3 separate regions of the Homo sapiens genome follow, and all the other regions are linked to region 3. The links come from fine-mapping of genetic effects on gene expression. A gene starts in region 3. Each other region holds a variant in brackets. All regions are shown on one strand. Distances are between the middles of the regions.

Region 1 (8,178 bases), 33 kb after region 3:
TGTGTATACATTAGAATTACAACTGACTTCGGCCAGGTGCAGTGGCTCCCGCCTGTAATCCCAGCATTTGGGAGGCCAAGGTGGACAGATCACAAGGTCAGGAGATTAAGACCATCCTGGCTAACACGGTGAAACCCTGTTTCTACTAAAAATGCAAAAAATGAGCCAGGTGTGGTGGCAGGCGCCTGTAGTCCCAGCTAATCGAGAGGCTGAGGCAGGAGAATCACTTGAACCCAGGAGACGGAGGTTGCAGTGAGCCGAGATCGCGCCACTGCACTCCAGCCTGGGTGACAGAGTGAGACTCTGTCTCAAAAAAAAAAGAAAAAAAAAAAAAATTACAACTGACTTCAAGAAAAAATTTTAAGCAGGAGCATAAGGTGATCTCAGATACGTTTTTAAAGATCACTGTGGTTGTTATAAAGAATGTGTTGTAGAGGAGCTATTTCAATGGTCACACAAGAAAAGGTGGTGTTTGCATTACTAAAGAGGCAGAGAGAAATGGACAGATTTTATGTATAATTAGGAAGTAGGAATAATAGGATTCAATATTTATTAAATACATACAGTATTTCAGGCGTGTTCTCAGTGCTGAAGATATAGCAGTGACTAAAGCAGGTAGGATCCTTGTCCTGTACACAAAGGCAGCATGGTAGACTGTGGGGTGCTGGAGCTGGCTCATGAGAGCTGATTGTCAAATTTAGAATTTTGAGAGCTGGTTGTTAAAACACAGCTATTATTAAAAATCAAACTATATAAACTTAAATACATTCTATTAAAACCAAAGATAATCAGTACTTAAAAGTAATCACTTCCTAATTATTTTACTACATTTTACTATCCCCTGTGCTCTTGTGATTATTTATATCTATCATATCTGTATGGTAGGAATATTGTATGCAGTGTGTTACTGTACATCCCTTCCCAACTCTACATTTGGTGATGTCTTGTCGGTAGCTTAAAGTTGGCCATGGTAGGAGTATTTATATCACAAAAATCTGCAAATGTTACAAATCAGTGCTTTTTCCCCCTAGAGAGCAGTTGTTAAATATTTGCCAGCGAACCCCTTGATAAGAACACACTATCCTTGTAGGAACACACCCCTAGGAGTCAGGCACCCAGGGTTTAAATCATGGCTCTGCCACTTGCTAGCAATGTGATTTGGCTAAGATACCTAATATTGGCTTCCTCATTCATAAAACGGGACTCATAGTGCTACCTTTGTCTGTTTGTGCTGCTATAACAAAATGCCCATGACTGATGATTTATAATGAACAAAAATGTATTTCTCACAGTTCTGGAGGCTGGGAAGTCCAAGATTAAGGTGCCCAGCAGGTTTGGTGTGTGGTGAGGTCCTGGTCTCTGCTTCTATGATGGCATTTTGAACGCTGCATCCTCTAGAGGAGACAAATGCTGTTCATCACGTGGCAGAAAAGCAGAGGAGAGAGAATCCACTTCTGAAAGCCCTTTTTATAGCAGCATTAATCCATTCATCGGGCAGAGCTCTCATGACCTAAACACCTCTCATGAGGCCGCACCTCCAAACACTGGCACATTGGGAATTAAGCTTCCAACACATCAATTCGGAGGGGACAGAAACATTCAAACCATAGCAAGTGCTATATACATGCTATATATATATATATATAGCACTAAGGCCCATTATAGACTGAGCAAGAGGAGGGGTCAGCTGGGATCAGCAAGCTCTTTGGCTGCCTGGAGCTTTATCCCTAAGCCTCCTACCCCTGAGGAAAGGAGACATTCAGTTCCTGCTCCCTGGAGTATACAGCCACAGACTTCAGGCCCAGCACACCTAGCACTCAGTGGGCCCAGGAGAAATGGCTAAGGTCAGAGAACTCATATCAACAGCAGAGCAGGCTGGACATAGACATAGCCATTCCAAGGGACAGTGGGTCAGTGTCCAGCTTACATCTGGCTCTTGGCAATGCAGGAGGAAGCTCTGTCATTTGCAGACATTTGCAGGTTCGTGTTCAGACCCCTTCTGGGAGAAGTAAAAAAGCTGCTGGTTAGGAGGATAGAGAAGACTACCCAGGAAAAGAGATGGTTGAATTTCTCTGGGCTCGAGTTCCCAGAGAAGCAAGAGATTGAGGTCCCCAAATCCACTCTGGGCAGCAAGGTTTGCAGAAGAAGGGAAAGAAGCATAGAAGGGTGTGTACCACTAAGGATGCACAGCCAGGGCTGAGAGGAGTGTGGGACAAAGGCTGTGGAGAGCTAGTTTCAGAGAGGAAAAACTCCTGGGCTCTGGCCTCTAGTTGAAGGGCGGGAGTGCACTGATTCCTGCGGCCTGCAGGGGGTGCTCAGGCCCAAGTACCGACAAGCTTCTTTCCTCAGCCCCAGTAGGAAGCCTGGGAAGGACCCAGGACCCACAGAAGGGGCCTCCTGTAGTGAGGGGAAGAGAAGCAAGGCTGCTGAGTCTTGACTACCCTGAGAAGTCTTGGCTTGTACCCTGTGACCAACACCAGGGTGGCCAACATATCCACAGCCCTGGGTTCCCAAATGTGTACAATGTTCTACTTTCAACTCCTGCCCAAAACTTGAACTTCAACCTGGACTGCCTGCAGTGCAGATGACTCTGCTGGCCTAGTCCCTGGGTGGAGCAGGAGGATCCAGTAATGGTTTCTAAGCCATTCTCGGGTACACAGGTGAATTAGGAAGCAACAGGGAAAAGGGACCATAAAGTAGTATTCTGGGATAGATGGATCCGGGGTGCTGTGAGGGGGACCACACCAGGTGTGTGGGGAAGGGGTCAAGCTGAAAAATGATCATCCAGTATATGTGCTGTATGCCCTCAGACAGCCCTGTTAGGCCAGAAGGAGACTGCACCCTTGGACTGGCAAGTCAGTGCAAGGCCCTGCTAATAGGACTATTGAAGACTCTCACTATGGGTTTTCTGTGGGGTGTTTGTTTCTTGGGGTGAAAGCTTCCCTCTCCCCAGGCAGGCCCAGCAAAATCTGTAGGATTCAGACAGGGTTCTGACAGCTGAAGACAAGTTGTTGAGGAAATTCCTGATGGAGGATCATGGGGTGCTCAGGAGGGAGAATATAAGGTTTCAGAGGCTGAGAGGGAAAGAAAAGGTGAGGGGGAGTCTTAGAATAGTGGCTCCCATTGCCCAACACCCAGAAAGAAGACATGCCCTGCAATGGGGAGAAGGTGAGTATGAGACATTGGCTGTAGCAGCGATGGCATTGCCCAGGCTGCCAAGGACTCAGAGAGTCCAGCCTTGCCCACTGACCTATGAGGAGGGAATGATGTTCACAGCACATTTTCATTCGTAAGTCAGGAGAGGACATTGAGCCTGATGGCAGAGGCCTGGTGACATGTTGTTCCAGAGGTTCCGGAATGTGTGTTTTCCTGTTGGAAGGAAACTTCGCAGAGTAGAAAAGGGATCTGAGACTTTTGGTAAGATTATATATGGGACTGTCAGGGGTCTGGAGCCATCTGTGAGGGATCAGGGCCCTTTCAGCCTTGGCTAGGGAGCAGGGGTCCTGGAACTTCATCCTGGCCCATAGCTGAGTCTGCCCATAATTCTTTTCTGACTCACTAGGCAAATCTCACACAGAAATGGGGCAGCTTTGGGAGTGGGCCCAGGAAGTACTGAGGATAGCAGGTGAGATCCCAGGAAGAGATGGATGTGGGGCCGAGACACTGGAGAGAGAAACAGGACTGTCAGATAAAGGGCGTCTGTGACTCCTAGATCTCATTATGCCTACTACCATAACCTACCCCCAATTCCTAATATTCTCCTACCCTAGAGGGGGGGAAATTGTCAGAAATTTGGCTGCAACACTAGCAACACTACTCAGTACTTGAAATGCATTTTTGCATTTTTTTCATTCAACAAATATTTCTGGAACAACTC[TTA/A]TATGCCAGGCACTATTTTAGGAGTCAGGGATATATAATGGTAAACAAGACAGGCAAAACAAAGCAAAGCAACAACAACCATCACCAGATAAGTAGACAGATGAAAGAATTTCAAGTTTTAGTAAGTAAAATAAAACAAGCAAGGGTCTGAAATGGCTAGATAAGGTGGTCAAGAAAGGCTTCATTGAGAAGGTAGCATTTAAGCAGGAGTCAGCTAGAAATATTGTGAAATTCCAGTTACAGTTCTATTTGTTCTGGGTTGGTTAAATAAAGCTTTTTCCCCCAAGGTGGAAACTACCAAGAAAGACTAATTACTAGTAGTGGTGGTGCTCTCTGGAAGAGAGACACCTCCTGTTTCTGCCTCATTACTGTCAACCCTTCACTTCCAGGCACTTTTTGCAAAGCCCTTTGCCAGTCAGGGAAGGCGAGAGGCTGGGCATGGGGCTTGGACATTTGACAACAGTGAGACATTATTGTCCCCAGACTCACTAGCCCAAGGGTAAAGCTGAAGAGGCTTGGGCATGCCCCAGAAAGGCCCCTGATGAAGCTTGGAAAAAGCTGTTCTCTGAGTATTTCTAAGTAAGTTTATCTGTGTGTGTGGTTACTAAAAGTAGTAAGTATTGCTGTCTCTAGCTGCCTTAGAGCAGGGCTTGACACAGTACACAGCAATATTAGTTCCCTCCTTTTCTCACCTCCCCCATTGTGGAGATAAACTCAATCACAAAAGGTGATCCTCAGTCTACTCACTTCCCTGACTTATGGATGCCTGGACCCATTGCCAGTGTGAGAGTCACAGCTGGACGTCAGCAGTGTAGCCCAGTTACTGCTTGAAAATTGCTGAAGGGGGTTGGGGGGCAGCTGCCGGGAAAAAGGAGTCTTGGATTCAGATTTCTGTCCAGACCCTGACCTTATTTGCAGTGATGTAATCAGCCAATATTGGCTTAGTCCTGGGAGACAGCACATTCCCAGTAGAGTTGGAGGTGGGGGTGGTGCTGCTGCCAACTCTATATAGGGAGTTCAACTGGTCACCCAGAGCTGTCCTGTGGCCTCTGCAGCTCAGCATGGCTAGGGTACTGGGAGCACCCGTTGCACTGGGGTTGTGGAGCCTATGCTGGTCTCTGGCCATTGCCACCCCTCTTCCTCCGTGAGTAAAGCTGGGACTAGAAGCGAAGGATTGAGTTCTGGGCTAGGGTAAGGTAGGGCCAGTTTTTAGGCCTCGGTCAAATTTGGGGTCAGGGGCTATGGGAAAGGGATCGGTCCCAATGGATCAAGATATCTATTTTGTTCTCCCTAGGACTAGTGCCCATGGGAATGTTGCTGAAGGCGAGACCAAGCCAGACCCAGACGTGACTGGTGAGGCCCTGACTCCCTAAGTCTGTCTTATCTGTCTGGTTGTGTCTCTGCATTTTATCACCTTCTGGTTTTTTTTTTTTTTTTTTTTTTTTTTTTTTTTTTTTACTTTGCCATCTCCCTACCTCCACCCCAGAACGCTGCTCAGATGGCTGGAGCTTTGATGCTACCACCCTGGATGACAATGGAACCATGCTGTTTTTTAAAGGTAGGAGGGACTGAGGTTAGGGCGTTTAGGACCTTAGACTTACTCTCCTTCACAAAGGGTGTCCCTGTCTGTGGGAGGTCTTAGGAATTATCTGATGGTATCACTGACAGCTTCTCTCAAGCTATCTCAGTAGGTCAAAGGTTTCTCACTGGGCCCCTCAGTGAGTGTGGGTTTTTTCAGGGGAGTTTGTGTGGAAGAGTCACAAATGGGACCGGGAGTTAATCTCAGAGAGATGGAAGAATTTCCCCAGCCCTGTGGATGCTGCATTCCGTCAAGGTCACAACAGTGTCTTTCTGATCAAGGTACTGCTGGGCCAAAATCAGGGCCAGGCTGGAAAGGGCTGGAATCGACACTGGGGACCCTTCCCCCAAATGGCCTTGGCATGGAGCCCATAGCAATAGGTAGCAGATTTCTTTCCCATGTGCCCTCCTTTCCTGTAAAAGCTTGGGCTAAGGGAGTGTGCATGCGTGTGGGCCTGGCAGGTGCACCATCCAGTGGCTGTTCTTCAGTCCTAGTCTTAGTTCTACACCGCTCTGCTGTACCTCACACTGCTGGCCATCCTTTTTTTCTCTGGCAATTGCTTCCCTTGCCTTCCATGACCCTGTATCAAGTCCTCTTCATAGGGCAAGGCAAGTTGTTCCCAACACAATGGCACCTGGCTAGAAGAGCATGTGGAGCATGAAATCCAGTCTGCTGTGCTCACCAAGTCCCATGTGACCCAGGCTGTGTCTGCTCAGAGGAAGGGGTGCCTTTTCCTACCTTGCCAAAGGTGCTGTGTGGTTGGGGAAGTCCTGACTGTCGGCTTTGTTTTCCCTCCTGCCTCTTTTCTCTCTCTTCTCAAATGTCTCATTCTATCTCAACCAGTTCCCTAATGTTCCTTGGGGATCCATCCTAGCCTTTCCATATACCTTCCCTCAGTGATCTCAACCATCACCTTGGCTCTGAGGAATATCTATGCTGTGGACACTGGATCTAGATCTACTTTCTGAGCTCCAGACATCTCTTTCCAATTGTATGTTCTACAGGCACCTAAAATTCAGCATCCCCCAAACTAAGCTTTGCATCTTCTTTACAAACCAACCTTTCCTCCTGTGTTTCCTGTTTCAGTAAATGACCCCAAAATGTGCCTGATTACTACAAACCAAGTGCACACAGGGTCTCATGATCTGGGCCTTGGTTATCTTCTCAGGTTTATCTCCTCCCCTGCCACATTCACTGTGTGCCAGCCATACGAATCTACATGAGGTTGGAGCACACTGCTTCCTCATGTTTGGGCTCTGCATGCTGCTCCCTCTGCTGGTAACACCCTTTCCTCACTTGTCAACCTGGAAAATTCCTGCTGATTTTTCAGCTCTTGGGCCCAATGCTTCCTCTTTGGTGTGAAACCTTCCACAACTTCTCTAGGCAGACTTAGGCACTCTGTCTATATTCTCAGTGCACTCTTTACACTACACCTTGGTAGTTGCATGGCTAGGATTGCAGGAGTCCTTTCTGCTTTTGTACAGTGAACTTCCTGAAGTGAAAGACAGAGTCTTGTTATCCTCAGTGCCTCTCACAATGCCTGGCATATAGTAGTTATTCAGTGACTGTTTCTTGGATGAATGAATGAATGAATAAATAAATGAAGAAATGAATGAAGAAATAACGTATGGGTGATTGCAGGATGAACAGTTGTGGATATGTTTGTCAACACTGATAGTGTTGCAGATAAATGTGCCACAGGAGTGTCTGGGTACAGAGCTAGAGGCATGTGTGTTATAGTAATAGTGACTGGATTTGCACAAACTGAGAGTGTGTAATGTGCAAAAGGACAGCACATTGTTGTCCACAGATGGACTGAGAATGTGTAGGGCCACAGGAGGATATCGTATAAGCACAGTAGATAAAAAATGTGTGTAAATGCAGAGTGGCAGTATCTGGGGATGCACAGTCAAAAAGAGAGTACTTTTGAATGCAGGGGGACAAAGTCTGGGTATACCCTCCTGAAAAGAAGGAGAAAGGATACCCAAAGTTGCTCCAAGATGAATTTCCTGGAATCCCATCCCCACTGGATGCAGCTGTGGAATGTCACCGTGGAGAATGTCAAGCTGAAGGCGTCCTCTTCTTCCAAGGTCAGTCCAGGCTGGAATCCAAGAACCTGGAGTAGTGGTGGGTTGGTAGTGATGCCAGTAGTGATGGTGATAGTGGTAGTGATGGTGGTGGTGGAGCCACTATGTGGCTTTTTAAGGAAGGGAAATAGAGAAGCCACGTATGGTCTAGAGGTCACGTGAGGGAAGGAGAGGAAGTCATTCTGGTGAAGGCAACTGTGTGTAATTCTGTGTGAATAGTCCCTCATTGTTCCCCATGACCCTTAGGACAAATCTACCCTCTTTAGTCTTACATACAAGTCTCTCCATGGCCAAATCCCTATTGGCCCTTCAGCTTTGACTTTTATTATACTTTTACCTTAACACTAAGCTCCAGAAACCCTATGCTATTCTCTGTACACTCAGTTTGCTCCATGCTTTGGAATCTTTCCTCTCTCTGGGGTTCCATCTCTCCTTGTGTGCCTTTTAATTCCTACTTCAGATTTCACTTTAAGTATCATCTTCCCTGGGAAGTTTTCCCAGACTCTCCCCACTGCCTTTGCTGAGCTGATCCTGTGTGTTTTGCTGCTGAATTTTGGTGTATGATCACCCTCCTTTAGCCATCTCTCTGATGGCTGTGAGCTCCATGTGGTCAGTACCATTATCTGGCCCATC
Region 2 (8,178 bases), 70 kb after region 3:
CTCACCATGTTGCCCAGGCTGGTCTTGAACTCCTGTTCTCAAACAATCCTCCTACCTTGGCTTCCCAAAGCACTAGGCTTACAGGTGTGAGCAACCATGTCTGGCCTGATCTATCTGTTAAAGTTATGTTTGATCAAGTTCCCCTTCTATTTTTTTCGTTGTTGTTGTTTGCAGTTTTGCTTTTGTTTTTTAACTGGAGAATCATGTTGCTTGTCCTGAGTTTTCTATGGTTTGGATTTTTCAGACTCTCTCCTGTGGTCATATTTACCATGCTCCTCTTCCCCTGGATTTCCTGTAAATTGGTAGTTAGTTCTAGAGCCTTGATCAGATTCAGATTTGAGCATTTTTGTGTTTTGCTTTTGCAAGAATATTTCATAGGTGGTATTAAATACTTCTACTAGGCCGGGCGCGGTGGCTCACGCCTGTAATCCCAGCACTTTGGGAGGCCGAGGCGGGTGGATCATGAGGTCAGGAGATCGAGACCATACTGGCTAACAAGGTGAAACCCCGTCTCTACTAAAAATACAAAAAATTAGCCGGGCGCGGTGGCGGGCGCCTGTAGTCCCAGCTACTCGGGAGGCTGAGGCAGGAGAATGGCGTGAACCCGGGAAGCGGAGCTTGCAGTGAGCCGAGATTGCGCCACTGCAGTCCGCAGTCCGGCCCGGGCGACAGAGCGAGACTCCGTCTCAAAAAAAAAAAAAAAAATACTTCTACTAAAGGCAAAGTCTGATTGCCTCTCTTTTTTGTGATGTTAGTGGCCTTTGGTGGTCATTGTCTCAACTCCTTTTAAAAGGAACAGCCCCTCCTGCACTCCAGCTGATTATTTTTGGGATTGGGGTGAGGAAAAATATAGTCTCAATGCAGCCAGTTAAAGGGAAACTGAAAACTAGATATTGGTGTAAAATAGCCCAATTTCTAAACGTTAACAACAAATTCTATTTTTTAAAAAGCACTGTGCAGGCCACACACAATCTATCTGAGGCTTGCATCAGTCTGCAGGTTGTAGGTTGGAAGTTTGCAAGACTAGGGGGTGTGAGTCAGTGACCAAATAGAGGCCTAGTTGCTCACTTGCCCCTGGGATGGTCACTGTGGGGGCTGCAACTCTGAACTACCTATGAAGCTTCTAGGAGTAGGGGGATAGTACTGCTGAAGAGCTGGGGCGGGTTTGCTGGGCAGTGACCTCAGCAAGGATGTTGGAGTGGCAAGAGGATTCTCAAGGATCATGCACTGGTGGAGACATTGTGAATTGAGGATAGAGGTGGGGGCCAGCCCAGGAAAGGGGCCAAGTCACTCTTTTACAACTGTGTTGCTATGACCATGAGGGCTGCAGAGAAGGTTTGTGCTCCTGCAGAAATGAGGCTAGAATTGAGCAAAAATTATATTCTCCTTCCTATTGTAGGATATTCATAGAGCTATGGATTGAATGCATAAATGCATGAATTCATGAATTAAATGAATGATGAATGAATAAACTTTACTACCTGTATTGAATTCATACTCTGCTCCAGGCCTTATCGTAAATGCTGGAAATGTATACTATGGGGCAAAGATGTTCTTACCTCCTGGCCTTCACAGCCTGGTGAGGAGACAAAGAAAGAAACAAGTGGTTATGATCAGTGCGATGAGCTCTCTGGGGCTGGGGAAGTACAGGAGGGGCCCCTGACCCTGCCTGTGAGAGTGGTGGGGGAGAGGGCAATGGGTCAGTTTTAAGAAGGGACCTGTATACTGATGTCTGAAGGAGAGGTAGGTGATAGCCAGGTGAAAATCGAGAGTAAGGGAGGTGGGCTGGGAGAGGACAAGGGGGCATGTCCCAAGCAAAGAGAGAGAAGGGGAGTGGCTGGAGGTAAGGCTGAGAGGCAGACAGGGGTTCATGACAGCACATAAAACCTGGGGAGGAATTTGGACTTTATCCTGAGGGCAGTGACAAAACAATTAAGAGGATTCCGTTGGAAAATTACTTGATTAGTTTAGCATCTCAGAAGAATCATTTGGGCTGTACTGTGCAGCTGAGATTGGAGGAGACCAGATAGGAAGAGAAAGACCAGTTATGATGTTTTTGCAATGATGCAGGTTAAAAAAAAAAAAGCTAGTAGCCTGGGCTATGTTAGTTATGTGGGGTGGAGAGAAGGGGAAAGCTTTAAGTCAATCACTGATTCCTGAGCAAGTGAGTACACCTGGCTTCACCACTAAGGCATTTGTGGATGAACGAATGAAGGAAGGAAGGAATGATACGTGAACATTTAATGTATTTTATATGTAAGTGTCGCATGAATCGATGCAGGAGTGAAGGTGTGCGTTCTGGAATAAATGCATGTGTGTGAAAGCAAAGGCCGGGGTGGGCTGCGCTTGGAGGGAGATGTGCCAAGCTCCAGAAGGGCCTCCCAGATGGCCAAGGGGGGAGAAACTGCCCTTCCAGGACAGATCGGAAGGATGAAGCTCTTTGAAGCAGGAAGGTACAGGCTGACAGGGATGGCAGATGGATTGGTGTGTGTGACTCAGTCAGGAGATGGTGAACTGGTCCCCAGATTCCAGAAGTGTCCAGCCAGCCCTCATGAAGCAGGCTGTGGCTGTGGAGGGCATGGAGGCCCTAGGGTGCTGTTCCTGGAAGGTTTTAGCAGGAGAGTCCTGAGGCAATGGAGGGTCTCTAGGGAACAGCAGGTATTCCCTGAGCCTCAGCTAAGTTTCAGGTGCCTATTGAAAACCTTATTCCATAGAGTGTGAGTTAGGGGGAAGTGGGGGTGAGGAGAGGCGGTGATGGCTGCCTAGAAGGTGGATGGGCAAGAGCCCCTCCTCTTTGGGTGTCTGTGGGCCCACGTCATTTGGAAGCTGAGGATGGTGAAGCACCCTGCCTGAATAACTCTCGTCAGGTGTGCAGCCACCTTGGCGTAACCACGCCCACTCCCAGCCCTGCTGTGTCTGGTTGCCCAGCAGCAGGGTCTTGGGACTGCCTGTCCCTTAGTACTGCCTCTTGGACCAGTCAGGATTCCTGGTTTCCCTGGTAACGGGAAGCACGTCAGCAGTCTGGGCGCTCCCAGCCGGTCCTGGTGCTGCGGTTGCCGAGGAGACGCTGCAGCCTAGCTGGGCCCTGGCAGGTGAGGGGTGGGGGGTGGTGCTGGGAAGCCCCAAGCCCAGCCTCAAGCTTGCTGGGGCTCAGGACCTCAAAGCCCACCCTTGGGTTCAAACTGCTGTGCAGGTCCTGGACAGGGGCGGGATCCCTGAAGGCCTTGAAACCACACCCTATTTATGCTGACAGCTATAGGCTCTGCAGGGCCCCAGGCAGCTGGGGTATTCCTTAGGGGCTGAGTCTCCTGGTATCCCTAAGACTGGGCTTGGCTTAGGCACTGAGGTAACCACTGGAGGGTGGGATGGAGATTCAGGATTGGGGGAGGGGAGCCAGGGCGAGGAAGAAGAGGTGTGAGCAGAAGGGGCTGGGGTCTCATGAACCTCCCTTTCTCCTCCCTTCCCCACCCCCCAAGGAGATTCCCTAGCATGGTGGTCCTGGCCCCTCCCTAGCAAGCTCCAAGCGGGGGAGGATCTTGCCTGGCAGACGCTCTGCCCTGGTGAGAAGGGGGCGGGATGAGCTTTTCTCTGCAGCCCAGCACCAGGCTGTGAGCCCAGCTGGCTGGGCTGGAGGGGCTGTGAGGAGGGAGGGTGGAGGCAGGAGGGGCCGGGAATGAGCGCCATGTTCTCCCAGGACTTTTTCCTGGCCATTATCCTGCAGGACAGCAGCGCAGGTGAGGGGCAGCATGAGGTTGGGCCTCATGTGGGGTGGGGCTGACAGGGAGAGAAGAGTTAGAGGACGCATGAGCGGGTTACAGGGTTGGAGTGGTGTGGCTCTGCCGGCAGACAAGGGTGTATGACACAGATGCGAGGTATGTGTGTATGTGCATGACATGTTTGCTTGCATCTGTGTGCAGCAAGGGTCAGGAAGTGAGCGTCTGTGGTGTCTGCACACATTTGGCAGGGTTTGACGTGTGCCGTGTGTCTGAGTGTGGGTCCGCCTGTGTGTGTGGTACCCACACGTGTGTTGGGGCCATTGTGGTGTGGTATCTGCACACCTGTGTGGCAGGGGCTCGTATGTTTAGCTGCATGCACACACACCTCTGTGGTGTCTGCATAAGTGTATGGCTAAAGTTTGTGTGTGTGTGCCCCTGCACATACATGTGCACCTGTGTGTGATACCTGCCATCTGTGCTGGCATTTTCTGTGTTGCATACCCTGGTGTTTGTGGCTGCACAGGTGTGTGGTAGGGCTTGTATGTGTTGTGTGTCTGTGTATACATGTACGTGTGCAGGAGCTAGAAAGTGTTCACCTTCGTGTTAACTGAGATAATAGATA[T/C]GTATGAAAGGAGGTTAATTGGGGTCACCCAACATTCATTGCTCCCTTCCTTCTTCCCTCCCTGCCTTCCTCCTTTCCACAGTGTGGCCACATTAGCCACCAACAGGGCCCAGGAGGAGACCTGAGCCATGTCCCCTACTGGTGGCCCCACATGTGGTGACTCCAGACTATAGGCTCTAGGCAGAAGCAGGAACTGTGTTGTGGTATAGCTCTTCCACCACCCCTTCTCAACCATGGGGTCTCAGAGGGGACCGGGCATAGGCACCAGCTGTCTGCTCTTTGGGTAGGCTGACCCTCACCAAGCCTCCCACCTGGCAGATTCCTTCTGGAACCCCAACGCCTTCGAGACGGATTCCGACCTGCCGGCTGGATGGATGAGGGTCCAGGACACCTCAGGGACCTATTACTGGCACATCCCAACAGGGACCACCCAGTGGGAACCCCCCGGCCGGGCCTCCCCCTCACAGGGGAGCAGCCCCCAAGAGGAGTCCCAGGTGAGGCTCACAGGCCTGTTGATTTTGGGCCAGGGGTGGAGGGAGTGTGTGCTGCTGGAGTAGGATAGGACACTCACTCACTACTCCCATCCCTCCTCCTAGCTCACCTGGACAGGTTTTGCTCATGGAGAAGGCTTTGAGGATGGAGAATTTTGGAAGGTGGGTAAGGGGACCTGCTTTACCACGGGATAGCTGGAGGAGGGGCATCATTTTGATACTGATTCCTCAATCCCCTTCCCAAGGATGAACCCAGTGATGAGGCCCCAATGGAGCTGGGACTGAAGGAACCTGAGGAGGGGACGTTGACCTTCCCAGCTCAGAGCCTCAGGTGAGCTGCCAGATGCAGTGAGCTGGCAGTGGGATGGATCTGTCTGGAAGGGGCCTTGGGACAGCTCCATTTATGGGAGCCCTGTGCCAAGTATTACCATCTGCCTTCAGCCCAGAGCCGTTGCCCCAAGAGGAGGAGAAGCTTCCCCCACGGAATACCAACCCAGGGATCAAGGTTTGTTCAAGACTGACACCCATTCTGAGTCTGGGGCCCTCTTATTTGTCAGACAGCCCCTAATGTTGTGCTCTGAGGGGTCTCAGCGCAGTTCCCCAGGTCCTGAGTTAGGAGTTCTTCCAGTCTCAGCACAGAGCCCTGTGTCTGAGCTGGAGGCACTTCAGTTTTTAAATCAACCAGCCCAACAGCCAGGTTGGGGGCCCTTGTAGTCTTAGTTCAGGTGCTTTTTTGTACTAGCTGGGGTCTCATCTGACATCTCCCTCACCCTAACCACATCCCCCTCTCCCTAACCACATCCTGTTTGGGGAGCTTCTCCGTCTTAGTTCAGAACACCCTGCCTCCTGCCACACTCTGTAGTCAGGAACTCTCCAGTTTTGACTCAGATCCTCTACCTCCTGCCCCTCTTCTGTGTCTGGCAGTGTTTCGCCGTGCGCTCCCTAGGCTGGGTAGAGATGACCGAGGAGGAGCTGGCCCCTGGACGCAGCAGTGTGGCAGTCAACAATTGCATCCGTCAGCTCTCTTACCACAAAAACAACCTGCATGACCCCATGTCTGGGGGCTGGGGGGAAGTAAGGACCTGAGCCGGGGGTAGGGGGTGGTACTGTGAGAGTGTGAAGGGAATTATGAGAGATGGGAGGTCTGACCTGCCCACAAGCAGGCTGGGGAAGGGGGATATTGGCCCATCCTAAGTGGCAGCCCTGTGGGATGGATGAGCGACCCCAGGCCAGGACCTTGGGAGATAGTCGCCTAACAACGGTGGAGTCAATGTGAGAGATGACACGTGACCTCCACTAGAGTGAGGCCTGCAGGGCGGGCGGTCTGACACCAAAGCAGGGGCCCCAGAGCTGTGGCTAACATCCCCTGAGCTGCAGGGGTCAGAGATCAGCCACCATCCTGGCTGGAGTCCCACTGAGTGCCTGCTTCTGGTCCTGCAGGGAAAGGATCTGCTACTGCAGCTGGAGGATGAGACACTAAAGCTAGTGGAGCCACAGAGCCAGGCACTGCTGCACGCCCAACCCATCATCAGCATCCGCGTGTGGGGCGTCGGGCGGGACAGTGGAAGGTGGGAATAGGGCTTGGGATTCGAGGGTGGGAGTTCATCCAGCATCAGAGTCCTCCTCTCTAACTCTGTTATTTGCCTCTCTTGTGCTGCTGGACCCAGAGAGAGGTACTATGCCTATTTTCCCCCTCCTACACCTGGACCAGATGCCTGGAAGCACCCAAGCTCCCCTCTTCTGCCCTGCCCCTTCCCACCCGCTATGCTCCACCATTACCCTCCACCTCAGCATGCTTGCCTGTCTACCCCTCCCCCCCAAGAAGGCAGCACCTATGGGGGACCAGCTGTGGGCAGAAGCCCTGGAGGAGCTGTGATGGGCAGGGAGGACGTGGGTGGGGTGGGGACCAGGCTCAGCACTGGATGGTACTGGGAGACACTGAGGTGCCCCTTCCCCAACAGGGACTTTGCCTACGTAGCTCGTGATAAGCTGACCCAGATGCTCAAGTGCCACGTGTTTCGCTGTGAGGCACCTGCCAAGAACATCGCCACCAGCCTGCATGAGATCTGCTCTAAGGCACGGCCCCCTCCACTCCCTGGACTAGTTGCCACCTTTGCTCTACAAGGGTGTGGGTGGGGTCACTGAGTGCTGTAGGGGGGCCCCAGGGCAATGAGGCTCTAATAGATTCTCCCTGGCTCCTCGCCTCCCTTCCTTCCTCAGATCATGGCCGAACGGCGTAATGCCCGCTGCTTGGTAAATGGACTCTCCCTGGACCACTCTAAACTTGTGGATGTCCCTTTCCAAGGTCAGTGTCAAAACCCCTCCAGGTCCAGCTCAGCTTTGTTGGCAAAGGTGGGTGACCCAAGGAAAGGCATGAGCTCCTGGACAGCGCTGATAGAAAAATGAACACATGAAGACTGAATACTCCAATACGTGGAGGGACTCCGGTTAAAGGGAGGCAGGGGACGAGATGAAAGTAGGGCCTCGGCTGGGCAAGTGTCCAGCTTATGCCCTGCTGGTGGGGCTGCGGGTGAGCAAGGTCTGCCACCATGATCAACCTTCTCTTCTTTCCCATAGTGGAATTCCCAGCGCCTAAGAATGAGTTGGTCCAGAAGTTCCAAGTCTATTACCTGGGGAATGTACCTGTTGCTAAACCTGTTGGTATGTGTGTCCTTCTATACCCAGGGGCTGCTACCTTGATCCTAAAACTCTGCCCCTACCCTCTGCCTTCCAATACTTCTTCTACCAGACCTTCCTCATGCTTGGTGTCTCCCTACCCTTTAAAATGCATCCCACCTCCCCATACTTCTGTCCTAGCTCTATTTCCTGTCCTGCCTATAGCAGCAGTCAGCACGCCTTCGCTGAGCATCAGCCACGTGAGTGGTGCTGAACCAGGCACAAAGGGAGACCCCACTCCTTCATCCCATGGAAAAGCTTTGGTGGGATTGGGAGGCTGATGTTAGATGACTGGAGGACACCAGACAGCAGCCTGTAGCTGGGTTTAGTGTTACAGCACCAGCTGTGGGCTGGGAGCATCTGGAGAAGGAAACAGTGAGCATAATTGTCACATACTTCATTGTTGCAAAGAATTTTTTTTTTTTTTTTTTTAAAGACAAGTCTCGCTCTGTCCGCCAGGCTGGAGTGCGGTGGCGTGATCTTAGCTCACTGCAACCTCCGCCTCCTGGGTTCAAGCAATTCTCCTGCCTTAGCCTCCTGAATAGCTGGGATTACAGGCTCCCGCCACCACGCCTGGTTAATTTTTGTATGTTTAGTGGAGACGGGGTTTCACTGTGTTGGCCAGGGCTGGTCTTGAACTCCTGACCTCAAGTGATCCACCTGCCTCGGCCTC
Region 3 (8,178 bases):
GCAGTCATTCCTCATCCTCCCTCCCTCCTGCAGCCCACAGGGAGAACCCCTTCAGGGTGGGCCCAGCCCTACCCCCAGCAGCACTCACCTGTGGAGGCAGCCTAAGGGTTTGTACAGAGGTCCAGAAGTTGGAGGGGGTGGGGGAGGGGGCACACTAGGTGCCTCACAAATAACCCCTCTCTGCACTGGGGAGAATGCCTTCGTGCTCAGCCTAATCAGAGCCCCTCCCCTGCTTGCCACACTAGCTCTCAGACTGTTCCAGTCTTGTGAACTTACCCAAGAATGCCCACCACCCACATTCCTACCCCAGGTATCCCCAGGGTGATCCCACTAACTTTCCGGCTAAGAGAGCCTTGCTGGAGGCAGTCCTTGGTTGTTCCAGTTTTGCTGGCTGTGTCCTCCCCGGGGAGGAGGGGAATGAAGGGCTCTACAGCTTCAGTCAGGTAGGGAGTGTTATTCAAGGTCTGTTCCTCCCTTCTGCCCTCAGGAGGAATTTGGCTACAATGCAGAGACACAGAAACTACTATGCAAGAATGGGGAAACGCTGCTAGGAGCCGTGAACTTCTTTGTCTCTAGCATCAACACATTGGTCACCAAGACCATGGAAGACACGCTCATGACTGTGAAACAGTATGAGGCTGCCAGGTGTGGGCACTGGCAGGGCTTAGGGTTTGGGGAGTTGGCTGGTATGGGTGGAAATTTGGGCATTAGGGGCATAAGAATTCAGGAAGGAAAGGAGAGTATGTGTTGAGGATAAAGGAGTGGAGACCAGCCTTTATCACCCCCTCCCCAGGCTGGAATATGATGCCTACCGAACAGACTTAGAGGAGCTGAGTCTAGGCCCCCGGGATGCAGGGACACGTGGTCGACTTGAGAGTGCCCAGGCCACTTTCCAGGCCCATCGGGACAAGTATGAGAAGCTGCGGGGAGATGTGGCCATCAAGCTCAAGTTCCTGGAAGAAAACAAGGTGCCAACCCCACCCCCTTGACCCTAGCCCACCTTTCCATCTGTAACACTAACCTTCCCCTCAGACCCTCCCCATTATTGAATGAGGAAATGCAGCCTAGCTGGGGAGTAGAGTGTTCACCCCCTCAACCCCTGGGCCTTTCCAGATCACCCTCCCTCCAATTCCTGGCCCTTTCCTGTTGGAGGATTTGGCTGCTGGTCCCAGGAACATAACTGGGAAAAATCACCCCCTGAGCTGGGGTACAAAAACCCTAGGCCCACAAATCCAGTGAGGTTTCTTCCATCATACTGACCCTTCTCCTTTGACTCCCTGGGTAGAGTTCAGCCCCTACCCCAAAAGCACCATCAGAGCAGAGTCCTTGTGCCCCTGGTCTGTGCCTGGGCTCAGGCTCATAGACCCTCAAGAAGGGCGCCTGAGTCCAGCCTTAGCTGACCCTGCTGGACCCCCAGATCAAGGTGATGCACAAGCAGCTGCTGCTCTTCCACAATGCTGTGTCCGCCTACTTTGCTGGGAACCAGAAACAGCTGGAGCAGACCCTGCAGCAGTTCAACATCAAGCTGCGGCCTCCAGGAGCTGAGAAACCCTCCTGGCTAGAGGAGCAGTGAGCTGCTCCCAGCCCAACTTGGCTATCAAGAAAGACATTGGGAAGGGCAGCCCCAGGGTGTGGGAGATTGGACATGGTACATCCTTTGTCACTTGCCCTCTGGCTTGGGCTCCTTTTTCTGGCTGGGGCCTGACACCAGTTTTGCCCACATTGCTATGGTGGGAAGAGGGCCTGGAGGCCCAGAAGTTGCTGCCCTGTCTATCTTCCTGGCCACAGGGCTTCATTCCCAGATCTTTTCCTTCCACTTCACAGCCAACGGCTATGACAAAACCACTCCCTGGCCAATGGCATCACTCTTCAGGCTGGGGTGTGCTCCCTGACCAATGACAGAGCCTGAAAATGCCCTGTCAGCCAATGGCAGCTCTTCTCGGACTCCCCTGGGCCAATGATGTTGCGTCTAATACCCTTTGTCTCTCCTCTATGCGTGCCCATTGCAGAGAAGGGGACTGGGACCAAAGGGGTGGGGATAATGGGGAGCCCCATTGCTGGCCTTGCATCTGAATAGGCCTACCCTCACCCACCCACCCAGTTTAATTGTGCTTAGAGCCCAAGAAGATTGGGATCTAGCACTAGGAATAAACCTTTCATAAAAGCAGGCCCAGCGAGGTCAATTTGTCGGGGACTCTAGGAGGGTGGCCTGGGTGGAGACAAGCTCAGTCTAATCAAACACCAGAACCCTATCAAGTCAAAAGAGCTGGGGCCAGGCAGCTGAAGTCACAGGTTTCAGAGATGGTTTGAAGGCCCAGTCTTCTCTCCCAGCCTCAGTTGGAGCCAAAGCTTTGTCCTTTAGCCAGCACCAAGATAGCTATGGATCTTAAGAGCACCAGATCCAGAGGGGGTTGGGTTTGCTGACCTTCATCATGCATTCATTCATACAGCAAATATTTACTGAGTGCTTTCATTTGCCAGGGACTGCGTTAGGCCCTGGGGAAACATCAGTGAATAAAACACGGTCCCTGCCCACAGTGCTTAGGGCCTACTGAGGGAAAGAAGTAACCAGGCAACTACAAAACAGTGATAAGTATTAGGATACAGAAGTACAGAGGGCGCTGTGGGAGCACAAAGGAGGGGCATCTGGCATGGACTGGGGTGGAAATGGGGATGTCAGTTTGAAAGCTGAGACCTGGCCAGGTGCGGTGGCTCACTCCTGTAATCCCAGCACTTTGGGAGGCCGAGGCGGGCGGATCACCAGGTCAGGAGATCAAGACCATCCTGGCTAACACGGTGAAAACCCATCTCTACTAAAAATGCAAGAAAATTAGCCCGGCACGGTGGCTGGCGCCTGTAGTCCTGTAGTCCCAGCTACTCGGGAGGCTGAGGCAGGAGAATGGTGTGAACCCGGGAGGCGGAGCTTGCAGTGGAGCCAAGATTGCGCCACTGCACTCCAGCCTGGGCAACAGAGCGGGACTCCATCTCAAAAAAAAAAAAAAAAAAGCTGAGACCTGAAGGGTGAGTAGATGACAAACAGGCAGGGTAAAGGGAAGAGCATCCCAGGCAGAGAGGCTAGCATATAATGAAGGCTCTGAGTAGGAACTGGGAGGAATTGCTTGGAATGAAAAATGAAGAGGGAGTGGCTAGATGAAGACTGCAGGCTGGTTAAGGACTTTTGCCCTCTGGAGAAGGAGCTGAGAAGTGTTTTAAGCAGAAATTTGACTGCATGGGAGAAGTATAGAGTTGAGAAAAGTAGTCCTCTGAGGCTTAAGATAGTGTCATCTAGACTCCAGTTCCCTCATCTTGGGTAGCATAGTAGCCCCAGCCCAAAACTGCAAGCATGATCCCCGTCTGGGTTTCCTTCACAAGCACTGGAGCATCTTGTGCTATGTGCTGAACTCAGGTGGATAAGAGGTTGAGGCGGTTCCCAAAGCTCCTGCTGCACCCAGGTGTTGAGCCTAAATCTGAACCTTGTGGAGAGGTCACAAGAAAGATCCCTAACAGCACTTTGGTTTAGTCAGGGCTAGGTGTCATCACCTGTATGCCCTTTGGCCAAGGAAACCAGAATTTTTCAGGATTTTCCCCACCTCTGGAAGGCTGGAGGAAGGGGAAGACCCACTCAGCAGATTCCCATAGTGCAGGGATCCTCACAGGCATGACTTTGCCCTTTGTCATGGATACTGCAGCTCCCAGACAGTCTTCTGGGCTTTGATCAGCCTGCAATCATCTGACTAGAGCTTGATTTTTGGGGCAGGGAAGGTGGTCCTTATATGAGCTGCCACTTAATGGGCCACTGGGGATTTTTCAACATGAAAGGTACCGAGTCTCCAAATGCTGGTTGTAGGGCCTAAAAACAGGGCTCAACTCCAGGTTCTGCCACTTTCTAGCTGAGTGATGAGGGCTAACGTCTGGGGAGCAAGATCCCTATTTTTTCCCATTGTAAAATTGGGCTAATAAAAGATGCTACCTACTGACTATTAAATAATATATGTAAAGTGGCTAGTTCTGTGTCGGCACATAATAACCACTCAGTCCCTGTAAACTGTTACAATTATTTTCCACTTGGGGCTGCTTTTTGCACAAGGCGATGATTCTGAGAATTGTCCAGTGTCTTTGGTGTGAGGAAGGGAGTCGCTGGATGGTCTGAACCAGAATTTCCTCAGGAGGGGGCTCCTGAAGCGCCCAAAGCCTAATCAAATCCCCCACCTTTCTACCCCTTAACTCCTTCTCCCAGAGTTCTGGGTACTGCCCTTCTGCCGCCCAGAGATCGTGCTGAGGTACAGACGGTTTCTACGTCTTCCTGGTCAGCCGATAGACTAGCATATTCCATAGGAGCACTCCAAGGAAGCCGGAAAGGGCGCCTCCAGGAGGCAGGCGGCCCAGACAGGCTCCCAGAGTCCGAAATCCCTGCTGCCCCAGCTGCCTTTTCTTGACGGAGTCTCATCTCAATCCCTGAGACCGACTACACCGCCCTTCCCGGAGCCGGAGGCAGCTGGCGGAGATCCGGGATCCGAGATCCGGGATCCGGCTCGCCGGCCCGCCGGCTCCCTAGCAGCACCAAGGAGGCAGCGTCCGCAGGAGGTGGAGGCGTTGGCGGGGGGGCGTGCGGGTGCGGTAGGGGTGGGCAGGCGGGGTGGGCGGGGCCTCCGCGGCGGCGGGCGGGGCGTGGGTGGGTCTTCCCTACTGGAGTCACCCCCTCCCCCGGCCGGTCCGCAGCCCCGCCCCGGCCCCTCCCTCCGGCCTGTGCGGCTAGTCCGGCGGCGGCGCCGGCGCGGGGACAGGCGGAGGCGCGGGCAGGGCCGGGCGGACGGGCGCTGGCAGCAGTAGCAGCGCCGCGGGCCCTTCAGAGTGGCCGCAGTCCGAGCTTTGCCCTCGCATCCTGTTCCAACGCGGTGAGTGCGACGGGCGGGCCCCAAGGGTGCGTTTGTATTCCTGTCAGCCCGGGTCTGGGTCGGAGCGTCTGTGGGTGGGGGCACAGATGATTTTCAAAAGCTGTGCCTCTCTCTGCCCACGTGAGGCGTGTCCATGTCCGTGAGAGCAGCAGGGGGATTCTTCGGGCTGTGGCTGCTCACGTGAGGTCCCTGTTTTGAGGCGGGGAGGCGCGGGTGGATGGGTGATGGTTCCTTAGGGGAGCGCGGGGTTTGGGAGCTTGTGTGTGTTGGCGGAGGGTGCTGAACGCTGCGGCCGAGGGTGGTGGTGGTGGTGCGTGCTGAGTGGGACTCTGGAATATTGTGGCCCATCTTGTCTGAAGGGCTCTTTTCTCCCTGGTGCAGACACCTCCACCCCTTGCTCCCCCACCCCCACCCTACCCCACCCCCCGCCCCTTCCATCCTCTGGTACCCACAGGCCCACCAGTCAGGATGGAGGACACCCTTTCCTCCCCATGCACTGCTCTGTGGACAGAAAGCCTCATGTGGAGGCTGTTTTTTTGTAGGAAAGGACCCCTCTGGTTCTCCTGTAGCCTGAGCCCTGCCTGGAGGACCCCAGGCCCCTCCCTGGTTCTGACCTCCTCCCTTCTGCAATTGGCTTCAGATCCTGGGCTGCAAACCTGCAGGGACAGATGGTTGCAGGTTGGAGGGGCAGGCTGCACCCCAGGGAGGTCAGTTCGACTGAGGGCAGGCCCTGGGCTTGTTCTTGGTGTGGGGGTTCTCTGATGTGGACAACAGAAACTCAGGACTGGCCCTAGCAGGAAGATCACATCTGGGAGGTCACAGCAGGTGCAGAAAACATCACAGGTCTCCCTTGGCCAGTCTGTCTAGCTCACTGGTGCCCATTCATCCCCTAAGCAGGGGATGATTTGCTGCAGAATTGGAATCAGAGCTGCAGGCCTGACAGTAGCCCTGCCTCCTTGGGCTTGTATGCCTCCAGTGACAGAGCACTTGCTACTTTCTGCTGTGGAAAAGCTTCCTTATATTAAGCAGAGGTCTCTCTTCTTGGGACTTTATTCACTTGTCTTGTTACTGCCATTACTTTTGCATCTCTCTCTGATGAAAGGGAACTGCAGAGATTTAAACAGAGCTCTCCTGTAACCAACATATACTGAGTACTTCCTGTGTGCCAGGTACTGCCACAGCCACTTAGGAGACAATGGCATTCTTGCCGAGAGAACTTGAGCAAAGAGTCCATCGTTGGGATAGTATAGCCCAGGTTCAGAAAAGCAGAAAAACCATATGGTTAGAATAGAGAGCGTTCATAGAGTGTCACAGGTGACTTAAAACTCAGCAAACATTTATTTACGGGGGCGAGGGGGCAGGGGGAGTGTGGAGGGGAGGCAACTAAGACCATCCTCTAACACATTTAGCCTAACAGTGGAAACTAGAAGTCAAATCATCGAGGTAGTACAAGATGGGATTTAATCATGGGCTCATGGTACAATCTGTGGAAGCCCTTGGCTTGAGAGGGAACCTTGGGAATCTCAGATTTTGAGAAAACATCCCTCTTCTCCCAATTTACAAATAAGGGAATGGGGTTGGAACTTACCTAGAGTTTCACCTTGTGTTAGTGGAGTTAGTTACAGCATTAGGACTAGATCCTAGATCTCCTAACTTTTTAAACCTAGCCAAATTTCAGAGGCAGAATTGAGGATGTAGTCATAGCTTGTATCTGAAAGGTGAAAGAAAAGGTGTAATTGAGAAGACTACCAGGGTTCTCGCTTGTGTGGGTGGGTGAGTGGTGGTGCCTTTTATTTATTTATTTATTTAGATTTATTTATTTTTAGCATATTTATTTTTATGCTTTTAGGATGTAAAAGCATCATGTATAACCTCTGCCTTTTGGAGATTTGCAATCTTGTCCATCTGTTCCATATTTCTTAGTTTCTCATGTTTCTGTTTCTTTACTCACTGTTTTCCCAATGTACGTATCAATGTCCTATTTGTCTCTCAAGACCCAGCTCAAATACCCCTTCCTCTGGAAGCCTTCTTTATTCTGTACCATCCTCAGAGTTAGGTACTTCCTCCAGTTTGCTGCTGTAGCAATTTGAACATGTCAATATCATGGTACTTATCACATTGTAGTTACGTGTTTCCATTTCTGTTTCTCACATTAGTCTAAAAACTTGTGAAAGACAGGGAGTGTGTCTGATTCAGCTTTGTGTCTCTATTTCACAGCTGAAGGACCTGGCCCACAGTGTGCCCAGAGAAGTTTGATTGAATGGTTCATTCACTTTACTCAGTCTGGCAATGTTGGGGGAGATGGCCATGAATTTCATTGCTTTCCTTCCCTGCTAATCTTATTTAAAGGATTCATTGGCTTTAAGGACTTTGCCTCATCCAAGGCTTCATTTGTTTCAGAGAAAGCCCAAAGACTGTAACCTGCAGTCATTTGTCATTTTTTTGAGGTCTCAAATGATCAGATAAACCTGGAAGCTAGTGAGTAGACGTGAGTTATTTTAGCAAGCAAATGAGCCTAGCTGACCTCTCGCATCCATTTTCAACAATGCCTTGGTTACCTCCATTCACAACTGTGTAACTCATGTGTACTGGGAATCCTGTGAGATTGTAGGAGGAAGTCCTGGGGAAAATTAATGCTATTTGAGAATTTGGAGAAACTGAAAAGCCTTGAAACACATCCTTTGCAGATGTCCAGGATCTAGTGGAGTCAGCACTGGCTGTCTTCATTTGTTCACAATCAGCTTCTTGCTTGACTCCCTGCATCTGGCTTCCTGTCCTCCATCCCCTGAAAACCACATGCTCTGAGGTTAATGAAAGCCTCTTTGGGGCTTAAATAATGGGACCTCTGCAGCATTTCACTCCCTTGTTCATGAAGTTCTCTTCTCCCTTGGCATTCATGACATCTGTTTCCTGATTCTCTTGCTTCTCTGGTTGTGCCTTCTCAATCTTCTTTGCAGACTCTGCTTCCTGGGCCTATCTCTTAAATATTGAGGTTCCTTGGGACTTGGTGATAGACCCTCCTTTCTCTCTTTACCCTCTCAGGGTAATGTCATCCACGCCCATGGCTTCAGGAACCATCTCTGCACCAACATCCACATTCATGTCTCCAGGCCAGACCTCTCTCTTAGGCTTCAGCGTATCTTTCCAACTGCCAACTGGACCTCTCCACTTGAATTACATCCCATAGGCACCTCAGATTCATCACATTAAACAGTGAACTCTAGCTGGGTGCTGTGGCTCATGCCTGCAACCCCCACGCTTTGGCAGGCCAAGGCAGGAGGAT

Direction of the effects. Alleles are on the strand shown, and positions count from the first base shown. SD is a standard deviation of normalised expression in the study named. Not every link is listed here.
With allele TTA in place of A in region 1, the expression in aorta of the gene that starts at base 4,745 in region 3 is lower (moderate effect, 0.52 SD a copy in GTEx).

Evidence for each region.
Region 1: its variant is fine-mapped to the expression of TRIM3 in aorta (GTEx, PIP above 0.99).
Region 2: its variant is fine-mapped to the expression of TRIM3 in whole blood (TOPMed, PIP above 0.99).

Annotation. Positions count from the first base shown.
Region 1 is chr11:6,437,726-6,445,903 of GRCh38, reverse strand. HPX (hemopexin) reads left to right here and starts at 4,917. Exons shown (of 10, transcript NM_000613.3): 1 at 4,917-5,023; 2 at 5,174-5,232; 3 at 5,366-5,437; 4 at 5,618-5,739; 5 at 7,395-7,548. The coding sequence starts at 4,941. RefSeq lists an enhancer at 2,480-2,549. The variant TTA/A (reference allele first, on the strand shown) is at 3,878.
Region 2 is chr11:6,400,301-6,408,478 of GRCh38, reverse strand. APBB1 (amyloid beta precursor protein binding family B member 1) reads left to right here. Exons shown (of 15, transcript NM_001164.5): 3 at 4,657-4,832; 4 at 4,935-4,991; 5 at 5,075-5,160; 6 at 5,271-5,334; 7 at 5,754-5,903; 8 at 6,270-6,397; 9 at 6,497-6,502; 10 at 6,791-6,905; 11 at 7,050-7,134; 12 at 7,407-7,490. Among named protein-coding and RNA genes, the nearest start is that of SMPD1, 14 kb to the right of the region's middle. RefSeq lists a silencer at 2,866-3,160. The variant T/C (reference allele first, on the strand shown) is at 4,339.
Region 3 is chr11:6,470,508-6,478,685 of GRCh38, reverse strand. It overlaps TRIM3 (tripartite motif containing 3), which reads left to right and starts at 4,745. Exons shown (of 12, transcript NM_033278.4): 1 at 4,745-4,895. ARFIP2 (ARF interacting protein 2) reads left to right here. Exons shown (of 8, transcript NM_001376558.2): 6 at 488-645; 7 at 794-968; 8 at 1,418-2,167. The coding sequence ends at 1,573. RefSeq lists a silencer at 4,619-4,848 and enhancers at 4,206-5,144, 5,145-6,084.